Linked DNA regions of Homo sapiens. The protein of the gene in region 1 interacts with the protein of each later gene in a biochemical or structural test. Each region holds a gene or a part of one and is shown on either strand. Other genes may lie near its edges.

Evidence for each region.
Region 2: of the proteins of PDGFRB (region 1) and PTPRJ, one has a biochemical effect on the other in vitro, tested with the Homo sapiens proteins (2 studies listed by IntAct).
Region 3: the proteins of PDGFRB (region 1) and NCK2 form a complex in vitro, tested with the Homo sapiens proteins (2 studies listed by BioGRID).

The regions. Positions count from the first base shown.
Region 1 is NC_000005.10:150,121,231-150,124,979, reverse strand, and holds part of PDGFRB (platelet-derived growth factor receptor beta isoform 1 precursor), read left to right. Parts: intron 1-148; coding exon 149-253; intron 254-619; coding exon 620-730; intron 731-1,778; coding exon 1,779-1,938; intron 1,939-2,939; coding exon 2,940-3,100; intron 3,101-3,657; coding exon 3,658-3,749. UniProt on the Homo sapiens protein: Tyrosine-protein kinase that acts as a cell-surface receptor for homodimeric PDGFB and PDGFD and for heterodimers formed by PDGFA and PDGFB, and plays an essential role in the regulation of embryonic development, cell proliferation, survival, differentiation, chemotaxis and migration.
Region 2 is NC_000011.10:47,983,541-47,987,289, reverse strand, and holds part of PTPRJ (receptor-type tyrosine-protein phosphatase eta isoform 1 precursor), read right to left. Parts: intron 1-3,749. UniProt on the Homo sapiens protein: Tyrosine phosphatase which dephosphorylates or contributes to the dephosphorylation of CTNND1, FLT3, PDGFRB, MET, KDR, LYN, SRC, MAPK1, MAPK3, EGFR, TJP1, OCLN, PIK3R1 and PIK3R2. Plays a role in cell adhesion, migration, proliferation and differentiation.
Region 3 is NC_000002.12:105,747,851-105,751,599, reverse strand, and holds part of NCK2 (cytoplasmic protein NCK2), read right to left. Parts: intron 1-3,749. UniProt on the Homo sapiens protein: Adapter protein which associates with tyrosine-phosphorylated growth factor receptors or their cellular substrates. Maintains low levels of EIF2S1 phosphorylation by promoting its dephosphorylation by PP1.

The DNA.
Region 1 (3,749 bases):
TAGGTTGACCTAAGAGAGTGGCTCTTTCCCCTCACTGGGCAGGAAGGGTGATAGCGGCCGGGGGTAGGGGAGTGGGGGGAGGGGGGCAGCTGGGGGAGCGGTGCAGCTTCCTGGTAGGCCAGGAGCTAATGGATCATCTCTGCACCAGGACGCACCCTCGGCTCTGGGGCCTTTGGGCAGGTGGTGGAGGCCACGGCTCATGGCCTGAGCCATTCTCAGGCCACGATGAAAGTGGCCGTCAAGATGCTTAAATGTGAGTAGTCCTTGGAGCCCTCCACATCTGGGCCTTCACCTCTCCCTGCCCCTCCCCACACACTTAGCCTCTCCCAGGGTGGCCTGATGCTGATTTGCAGGCACTAGAGGGGCCATCACACTGCAGCAGGCACTGCTCCCGAGTCTGGGTCTGGTTTGGGAAAGAGCGTTCCTCTCCCTGGCCTCCTCGGCCTGCTTCCCCCTACCCTGGCCTCTTCCCCTCCTCAGAGTGTGGGTGCTCACCCCCGCCAGGCTGCCTGGGTCTTGCAGCACAGGGCGGGGCAGAAGAGTCAGAATAGGCTCCTGTGGTGGGGCCTCCATGGAGCCTCCATGACTGGGCCTGGCCTGGGGCCCCCATTTTCCTCAGCCACAGCCCGCAGCAGTGAGAAGCAAGCCCTTATGTCGGAGCTGAAGATCATGAGTCACCTTGGGCCCCACCTGAACGTGGTCAACCTGTTGGGGGCCTGCACCAAAGGAGGTACCGAGCCCACTGCCCCAGAGGCCTCAGGGAAAGTGCCCACCACCAAGGCCAGGCCCCGCCTACCCCCCCCTCAGGCCTTGCACAACAGCACACTCCTGCTGGAGGGTCCGTGCCCACCCGCTCCAGCGCCCTCACTGCGCGGTCCCAGAGGGCGGTGGGGTTTAGAAACTCACAAAATCACAACACCTTCAAGGCTGAAGGATTAGTCAGGTCACCAGTCCCAGCAGCTTCCAGACCATGGTGTTGGCTGACACTTTTTTATTTTCCCAATACATTTTGAAAACCAATAAATAACAGCTCACATGACATTAAGATGAGTTATATGCCCACCATTGGAGACCACCAGCTTGCTACTTGGGAGCTACCTTCATTTGATCATAGAAGAAAGTCTCTGTGGCCAACTGGGTCTATTTGAAGCTCTGATTGCCAGTTAGGCTGAAAAAAAATGTTATCACCATTTGCAGCTGCTTATTGTGAGATTTGGGATTTTCCTCAGCATTATGCAACCAAAATAAAATACAGAAGTATGTTGGGTACATAGACTTATTCACGTTTGCAATGATCGCTCATTTCAACATTTTCGTTTGTGTAGATATCTTCAAGTTCTCACTGATTGACTTTAAGTAAATGCATTGTAGTTGAATTTAACTACTAAAGTGATCGTTGTAAACAGTGGCCTTTATCTGCTTTCTATACTGGGCTCCAAAGTAAGCTTTAGTTTGAAAACATATCAATAAGAGCCAACACTGCGAGCTCGCCACGTGCCCAGCCAATAAAGACATCATCTCATTAATCCTCATGACAGTGCTTTGTGGTGGGTTTAATTAGCCCCACTTAACAGCTGGGGAAGGTAAGGCTCAGGGAGACTAAGTACCTTGCTCTCCACCACAGAGGCAGGAAAAGAATCCAGATTTGCAAGGCACTAAAGCCTCCTAGCCGTCATGCCAAAGTGTCTCTCCCACATCCAGCCCCTGATTAGCCTCATGGCCTTGAAGGGACGCCTGAGGCCTCCATAGGGACTGTCCCTGAGCCTGTCCCTCTGCAGGACCCATCTATATCATCACTGAGTACTGCCGCTACGGAGACCTGGTGGACTACCTGCACCGCAACAAACACACCTTCCTGCAGCACCACTCCGACAAGCGCCGCCCGCCCAGCGCGGAGCTCTACAGCAATGCTCTGCCCGTTGGGCTCCCCCTGCCCAGGTACCAGGAGGGAGGCCAGGGACTGAATCTTTGGGATACCTGAGGAGCACCGCTCCTTCCCCTCCTTTTGTCCAGGAGGGGAAGCTGAGGCTGTGACAGGGCAGGGGACAGAATCACTCCTGGAGCTAGGGCTGTTCCACAAGATGGTCCACCCCAGATGAGGGAATAACACTAATGCCAGGCCCTGTGCTGCTAAGCCCTCTACAGATGTGACATGCCATCCCTGTGTCGTGGGTGTTTGCCCTTCAGTCCAGGGCAGGCAGTGATGGAGGAAGGGGCAGAGGCTGTGGTGAGATGAGAGCCAAGCCTCCCAATTTGCACAGTGGTGCTCCAGGCTGTGTTCCTCTCTGCAGCCTCTACACATCAGCCTCCACACTGCCTCTCAGGGAGCTCAACTCCAGTCTTTGTCTTTTCCAAAAAGAACACTTCTTAGTTCTGTTGCTGATTACAAAAACAAAGACAAGAGTAGCTTCAGAAAAGCGTAAAAGACCTTAAAACCCACTCATGTCCTCTCCAATGTTTTGACATTCAGTCTCCCAGGAGCCAAAGGGCTTCTCCCATCTTTTTCCTGCCTATAGAGACAGATGTGTGTAGAGCCCCACAGCTCTTTGGGGAGCTGATGCTACAGGCATAGGTAGCGGGGTGAATCCTGGCTGCCTATGCTGGGTTGCAGTCAGGCACTCCCATGGCCAGGTGGCGCTGGGGAGGCCACAGGAAGGCGCCTCTGAACACACCCGTCTTGTGACCTTTGCCCTGGGGTGCTGTAATCGCCTCTGGGTGTGAGCTCTCTGGGTTCTAACTGTCATTTTGGTAGCCTCAGTGCCCAGCTTGGCCCAGCAGGTTGGTTGAAAAGTCTTGATCCACAGGCTTTCCTACTGGGATAGACTGAAGGAAGATGAGTGAGTGTGTGAGTGAGAGAAGAAATTCATGAGTGGCAAGGGGCAGGAGGGGAGGGGAAGGCAAAGCCTGCAGGCTCTCCTGTGATGCTCCTTTACCCCCAGCCATGTGTCCTTGACCGGGGAGAGCGACGGTGGCTACATGGACATGAGCAAGGACGAGTCGGTGGACTATGTGCCCATGCTGGACATGAAAGGAGACGTCAAATATGCAGACATCGAGTCCTCCAACTACATGGCCCCTTACGATAACTACGTTCCCTCTGGTGGGTGGACATAGTGACATAGTACCCCACATCCAAACAGGCTGATGCTCTTCACATGCCCAGCCTTGCCAAAAACCCTGAGAAGAAGGGAGCCTCGTGCCCATTTCATAGATGTAGAAATTGAGGCTAGCCACCTGGCCAAAACTGATCTGTAGTGGACCCCTAAACGGAAGCCCTGTTTATGGATCCGGAAACATGCGTAGAACCCTCAGGGAGGGAGAGAGCAGGGATATGGGAGGACCTGGCCTTTTGTCGTGGTAGGGAAAGTGATCTACTCAGCTTCAGCCCCAGGCTGGTCTAGTGTCCCTGAGAGGCAGGCAGGCAGGCCAGGCTGGGCAAAAGTGGCCCAAGGGCTAATGCCAAAAGGCCAATGAGGGCACTGATAAAGCAGGAGAACTTTGAGTTTGATATTAAGAAATCATTCTCCTTTTAGGGGAGACCTAGACGATCAGTAGCCACCTGTCTTGGACATTCAGTCTCCCAGGAGCCAAAGGGCAGGGGTCCTGTGGGCCAGAAGGAGATATAAGATAGCAGGTGACCCTCTGCTTCTCCTCTAGCCCCTGAGAGGACCTGCCGAGCAACTTTGATCAACGAGTCTCCAGTGCTAAGCTACATGGACCTCGTGGGCTTCAGCTACCAGGTGGCCAAT
Region 2 (3,749 bases), on another chromosome or scaffold:
ACCTATAAAATCATGGACTTTTGGGGGTCTTTCTTTACTAAGACCCCCTAAAATAAATTATTTTTTATTTTTTTTCTTTTTGAGACAGGGTCTCACTCTGTTGCCTGGGTTGGAGTGCAGTGGCGCTATCAAGGTTCACCGCAGCTTCAACCTCCCAGGGCTCAAGCCATCCTCCCAACTCAGCCTCTCAAGTAGGTGGGACCACAGGTCCACACCACCATGCCCAGCTAATTTTTTGTATAGACAAGGTCTCACTTTGTCATCCAGGCTGGTCTCAAACTCCTGGGCTCACCTGATCCTCCCACCTCTGCCTTCCAAAGTGCTGAGATTAAAGGAATGAGTCACCCTGCCCAGCCAATAATTCTTAACATTAGGGGAAAAAAAAGTATTGTGACTGAGCTCAGTTCATCTTGCACACACCCAGAGTTATTCCATACTACTCTGTGGAAAACACTTCATAAATATTTGTCATATGGGCCAGGCGTGGTGGCTCAGACTGTAATCCCAGCACTTTGGGAGGCCAAGGCAGGTGGATCACCTGAGGTCAGGAGTTAAAGACCAGCCTGGCCAATGTGGTGAAACCCCGTCTCAACTAAAATACAAAAACTAGCCAGACATGACGGAGCGTGCCTGTAGTCCCAGCTACTCAGGAGACTAAGGCAGTAGAATTGCTTGAACCCGGGAGGCGGAGGTTGCAGTAAGTGGAGATCACGCCACTGCACTCCAGCCTAAGCAACAGAGTGAGACTCCGTCTTAAAAAAAGAAAAAATTGTCATATGAACTAATGATCTGGGGCCTCATTTCTTCTCTCCAAGTAACAGCAGCAGCCACAACTAGCAGTTGGGCCTTGCTTTAGGTGTTACGTAGCAATTCCTTTTCTATCTTATTTGATCCTCTCAACCACCCAGTGAAGCAGGAAGTGTTAGTCCCATTTTCCAGATAAGGAAATGAGAAGTCACAGAGGTTAAGTGACTTGCTGAGTTTATGCAGTGGCAGAGCAAAGACCCAAACCCAGGTCTTTCCATCCCAGACCCCAGTCTATCTCCACAAAGGCAGACTTGCCTTGTAAACTGAGGCCCCAAAGAAATATAAGCAGGAAAGAGGGCACCTGGGTTCTCTGTGTTACAAATGGAGCAGATCATACAGGGTTTAGGACACAAAGAACCCAAAATAAAGGTAGCATGTCCCTGCAGTCCTGGCTACTTGGAAGGATGAAGAGGGATGTCAACTGGACCCAGGAGTTCGAGTCCAGCCTGGGCAACACAGCAAGACTGTCTAAAAAATGTCTGGGCCAGGTGCGGTGGCTCAGGCCTGTAATCCCAGCACTTTGGGAGGCCGAGGTGGGCGGATCACCTGAGGTTGGGAGTTCAAGACCAGCCTGGTCAACATGGCGAAACCTCATCTCTACTAAAAATACAAAAATTAGCTGCGCATGGTAGCGCACGTCTGTAATCCCAGCTACTCAGCAGGCTGAGGCAGGAGAATCGCTTGAACCCGGGAGATGGAGGTTGCAGTGAGCCGAGATCGTGCCACAGCACTCCAGCCCAGGCAACAGAGTGAGACTTCGTCTCAATAAATAAATAAATAAATAAATAAATAAATAAATAAATAAATAAATGTCTGCCACCTCCTCTCTTAGCTGCACACAGAAAACCTTCTCCATGACTTTTTACAGCACAGGATGGTAAATTGGGGCAGTGGAGACATCAGCCCTGGCTCCGCCACGTAGTAGTTAATGAATCTATAGTAAATTATTTTTCTTTTTTTTTATTTCTCTGTGAAGATTCCAGAAGTATACAGTTAAGTTCTGAACCTCAGTTTTCTCTCAGATAAAATAAAAACATGGCTGGGTGCAGTGGTTCATGCCTGTAATCCCAACACTTTGGGGAGCCAAGGTGGGCAGATCACTTGAGCCCAGAGGTTCAAGACCAGACTGGGCAACATAGCGAGACACCATCTCTATTAAAAAAAAAAATTAGCCAGGAATGGTAGCACACGCCTTTAGTCCCAGATACTTGAGAGGCTAAAACGAGAGGAGCCCTTGAGCCCAGGAGGTTGAGATTGCAGTGAATTACGTTTGTACCACTGCACTCCAGCCTGGGTGACAAAGCAAGACCCTGTCTCTTAAAAACAAAAACAGGCCGGGCACGGTGGCTCACGCCTGTAATCCCAACACTTTGGGAGGCCGAGGTGGGCAGATCATGAGGTCAGGAGATCAAGACCATCCTGGCCAACATGCTGAAACCCTGTCTCTAATAAAAATCCAAAAATTAACTGGGCATGGCGGCACGTGCCTGTAATCCCAGGTACTTGGGAGGCTGAGGCAGGAGAATCCCTGGAACCCAGGAGGCGGAGGTTGCAGTGAACCAAGATCACACCACCGTACTCCAGCCTGGCAACAGAGCTAGACTTCATCTCAAAAAAAAAAAAAGGCCGGGCACAGTGGCTCACGCCTATAATCCCTGCACTTTGTGAGGCCAAGGCAGGCAGATCACCTACGGTCAGGAGTTCAAGACCAGCCTGGCCAACATGGTGAAACCCCATCTCTACTAAAAATACAAAAAGTAGCCAGGTATGGCGGCATACGCCTGTAATCCCAGCTACTCGGGAGGCTGAGGTAAGAGAATCACTTGAACCCAGGAGGTGGAGGTTGCGGTGAGCCAAGATTGCACCATTGCACTCCAGCCTGGGTGACAGAGTGGGACTCCCTATCAAAAAAAAAAACAAACAAATAAACAAGAACAGCACCTACCTCTTGGTATTTCTGAAATGGCCAAATGAAATAATGCATTAAAACCCTTAGCACACAGTGCCTGTCATGCATAATGTTACCTATTAATTATAATATCATCAGTGGCATTATATTAGAAGGGAAACACACAGAAAATTGCCTCTTATCCTGCACTCAAAATAATTCCCTAGCCCAAGAAGTGAATGAACTGAGAAGTAATTACTGATGATCCTCTGGCTACACCCAGGCCTACGGTTGTTCAGCCACTCTGCCTCAGCCCCAACCTCAAGCAAAAATTACTTTTAGGAGCTAAATAACCCCTTTGCTGACCAAAATTGCTCATTTGGAAGCCAGGATCCTCTCTGCTTAGGAAAGCTTGGGTATTCCATGGTTATCTTTATCGTGGGGCCCAACTTGAAGTCAGCTCAAAGTCACGGTCTAACCATAAACCAATTTGCTGTTTTCGTAAACTGTCTGCAAACAAAACATAATCGTTTGGTTTTCCCGTTGTCCTGAAGCAAAACAAAAATATTTAAAGTCACTCATATGAGAATCTAACAAGCAGTTTAAAGAGGAGTCAAAATATACTTTGTACTCTGGATGGAACAGGTAAGGAATCAGGCTTAAGGATTAGCCATGAGAGATAATAAACCCAGTTATTATTCACCAGGAAACAAGAAAGTGAAGATAAAACAAAACCAAAACACTACAAGACCAATAAAACAGCTATCAGTCACCAGCTTTTTTTTTTCATTTATTCTTTTAAAATCAGCCCACATCAAGCTGATTTCTTAAAGAACCTGTCAGGATTAAATTTCTCAAGGAGGCAGGAGGAAAACTGCTTTGTCACATTGCCTAAAACATACACACAAACCAAAACTACTGTGCAAAACTGCTATGAGAATGGGAGGAGTCAGACACTGCAACTAGCAAAGTCCTCATGTTGGAATCATCTCTGACCGTCCTTCCTGTCTTAGAAAAGGGGAATGAGATGCCAGTTCAAAAATTGCTTTTCCGG
Region 3 (3,749 bases), on another chromosome or scaffold:
TAGCAAACCATCAGTGGGTGGCCACAGATGACTTGTAGCTCAGCATGTGTGTATATGGGGAAGGGGATATTTAGATGCTGGGAGAAACAGAGAGGCAGCCCAGTCGTGCAAGCCCATGACTGCCATGCTGGGGACTTGAGTCACTGACCCAAGTACGATGGAGAGCCACCGTGTGCAGGTCATGGCCAGACCTGACTGTCAGGGTGCAGTCACCCTGGGATGGATTGGCAGGAATGGTTAAAAAGTGGTTTTGATGTCCAGGGGAAACAGAAAAAGGACAGCAGGGCTGAGATGTTAGATCTTTTGGAGGTAGAATCAATAGGGGTTGATAACTAGTTGGGAGCTGAGGGAGAATTCAAGGATAACCGAGTGAGTCGGTGATGGGGAATATAACTGAGAAGGCGGGCAGGTTGCAGGAGAAGCTGCAAATGGTTTGGGATGGTGGAAATGACCACTAAGAACTTGGATAATTCATATGAATGTGAATGAATGAGCAAACAAAGCATCAATGAACATACAGATCTGGAGCTAGAGGGAGGTCAGTCATGCAGGCATTGCCCCTGCCTTATGTCTGAACAAGGCAAAATGGCCTAGGTCAGAAACATTCCAGCCACGCTCAGGGTGCACCTCACCACCGTCATGCACATTCTGCTAAGGGATGTTTGCTCATGTGGCAAAGACTGCACGATCACAGAGATGGCAGGCTCAGAGGAGACGGCCTCTCCACCCTGGCTGCCATTGGCCCCACCTCTTGCTTTGCTCTCTTCATCCAGGGTTCAGAAAAAACTTTCCTTTGCATATCACTGATATTTTATCATGGTCTCAATTAAAGACAAACCAACCCCCAAATAAGTGTCTACCTACCTAAGTTGAAGAGAAGTTTCCATAAATGAAATCAAGTCAAGATTTTTCTCTCTCTTCAATCACTCTACTTAAAACCTTTCCAGCCTTTGGAAGGCCAGCACCAAGGCTTGTTCCCTGTTATGGGGTGCTACAACCAATATATAAAGAGCTGACGTTCCCTCCTTACTTGTGACTACTCTAACCATCCCTGGTAGGTGTCCCCAAATAAACAGAGATCCCAGATCTGGATGATGGGAGCACCAGGTCTTCCTAAAAGCATCAGCCCTGTTGTGGAACCTAGACAGACACACTGGGAGTGGCTGAATTGTCCACCCTAAATTCATATGGTAAAGCCCTAACCCCTAAGTGACTATATTTGGAGACAGGACGCTTCAGGAGGCAATTAAGGTTAAAAAAGGTCATAAATAAGGTTAAAAAAGGTCACCATAAGGGTGGGGCCCTCATCCAACAGGACAGATGTTCTTATAAGAGGAAGAAACACCAGACCTCTCTCTCAGTGCACTCACAGAAGGAAGGCTACGTGAGTGAGGACACAAGAAGACGAGCCAGGAAGAGACACTCACCAGAAACCAGCCCTGCCGGCCCCGGGGTCATGGACTTCCAGCCTCCAGAACTGTGAGAAAATAAATGTCTGCAGCTTTAGCCACCCATTCTGTTGTTGTTGTTTTGTGTGTGTGTGTGTGTGTGTGTGTGTGTGTTTGTTTGCTTTTGAGACAGGGTCTCACGCTGTCACCCAGGAGTGCAGTGGTGTGATCTTGGCTCACTGCAACCTCCGCCTCCTGGGTTCAAGCAATTCGCGTGACTCAGCCTCCCGAGTAGCTGGGATTACAGCCGTGAGCCACTGCGCCCGGCCTCTGTGTGTTATTCTCTTAAGGCAGCTGGAGCTGACTAATACACGCACTAAACAGGAATAAGCTTTCTGAACTTGAGGAGGCTTTCCAGGGTAACCCTGGCCCATAACCAGGATGTGGGGACAAGAGAGACTGACATTGCTCCTGCCGGCCTCCCCTCACACCGCTCAACCTCAGTCAACTCACATCCAGAATCTGCTCCACCAATATCTACACACAGCTGCGACACGGCAAAGGCAGATACCCAAGGACACTGTGTTCTGTAAACTGCCTCACAAAAAAACAACTCTACCCAGCAACACGTTGGTGTTCCTCATGTATGGCCTGCAGAAGGACTTAACCTAAATTCAAGCTCTGTCATCCCCAGTCTCCTACCTAGAAATGAGGGCCAGAACCAAGTGCACCATGTTATTCGACTATTAAATATGATGGTGTATGTGAAGAGGACTTTGCAAACAATGAATGAGCGTGCATGCATTAGTACATGTCATTCTCTCATCATGGCATTTTCGGTCTTCACTAACAATTTGGCAACGTAAGCACCCCAGCTTCCAAAATTGTCTCAAAAGAAGCAACTGCAATACTTAAAATTCTGAGTGCACTTGAAGCTTCTTCTCTTAAAAACATTACCAATACAACAGTAGAAAGAAGGGGTGACACAAATAACTAACTTACCAGGCCAGGATCACAAACGGTCTGCCCAGCGTTTTGAATTCAGGTTGATAGGAACAGACTAACCTACAAAAGTAAACCATTCAGCCAGCCCACCAGGTAATACAGTTGAGTATGGGGTTGGCTTTGTTTTTTTGTTGTTGTTGTTGCTGTTGTTGTTTTTAAATGTAGCTTCAGGACTACAAATGACTCACATGACAGAAAATTTGCCAAATAGAGAGGCCAACAGACCAAATTCTCCCATTGTCTGGACATCCTGAGGTCAAAGCCTTCCACAGTAGACAGAAGTTCTGAGATTTACAAGAATGCTGGAGGTCTCTTACCACTTGAATCTCAGTGGGAGGCTAGAGCCCCAATATTAACAGGCTGGGCACTCATTATTCACATATTCAATAAGTATTTGTTGCACACTCATTGTGTATAAGTGGCAAGACCAGTCTGCCCCCAAGCGGTTCAGAATCTAGTAAAGAAAAGATGAAGGCAAAAAAACCATAGGGCAGGGTATGGTGGCTCTGGCCTGTAATCCCAGTACTTTTGGAGGTCAAGGCAGGAGGCTCACTTGAGCCCAGGAGTTTGAGACCAGCCTTGGCAAAGCAGCAAGACCCTGTCTCTACAAAATAAAAATAAAAATAAAAATAAAAAAATTCACTGAGCATGGTGGTGCACACCCGTAGTCCCAGCTACTCGGAGGCTGAGGTGGGAAGATTGCCTGAGGTGGGAAGATTGCCTGAACCCAGAAGCTCGAGGATGCAGTGAGCTGTGATCATGCTACTGTACTCCAGCCTGGGTGACAGGGTGAAACCCTGCCTTAAAAAAAGAAAAAAAACAACTGCAGGAAAGAATGTCACAGATGACAAATCAGGGACACAAAGAAAGTGCTGTGGAAGTTTAAAGATGATGCCATCCCCTCTAGTTTGGAGTTGATAAGATGTGGGGAAGAAAAGAAGTAAGAGACGACCCTTGGGATGAGTAAGAACTCAGGACACGGAGGAGACTGAGCCAAGGAGTTGAGAGGGAACACAGAGGCTGGTCAGGGACAGTGACACCGTATGACATCACTGTGACACTGCTACCTCAATCAAAATAACTTTCATTTCCACAGTTTCAAGGACTAAGATTCTTGAGGTAGGAATGTATGTGCCAGTACACATGTGGATGTGTGTCACTGGGCAGAGGTAATACTTGCTAACGTTCATTTACCTTTAGAAATAAACATACTTTGGGAAATGTTCAAAGGAAAATGCAGGAAAAGAAAAGAGTCTAATTTTTTAATTGTGCTACTAAATGGCCTAAAGAAATGCAAAACTGTTTTTGCTTTAGCTGCACACTTTTGATAGCCCGTTAAAAGGCCGTCACGACCTT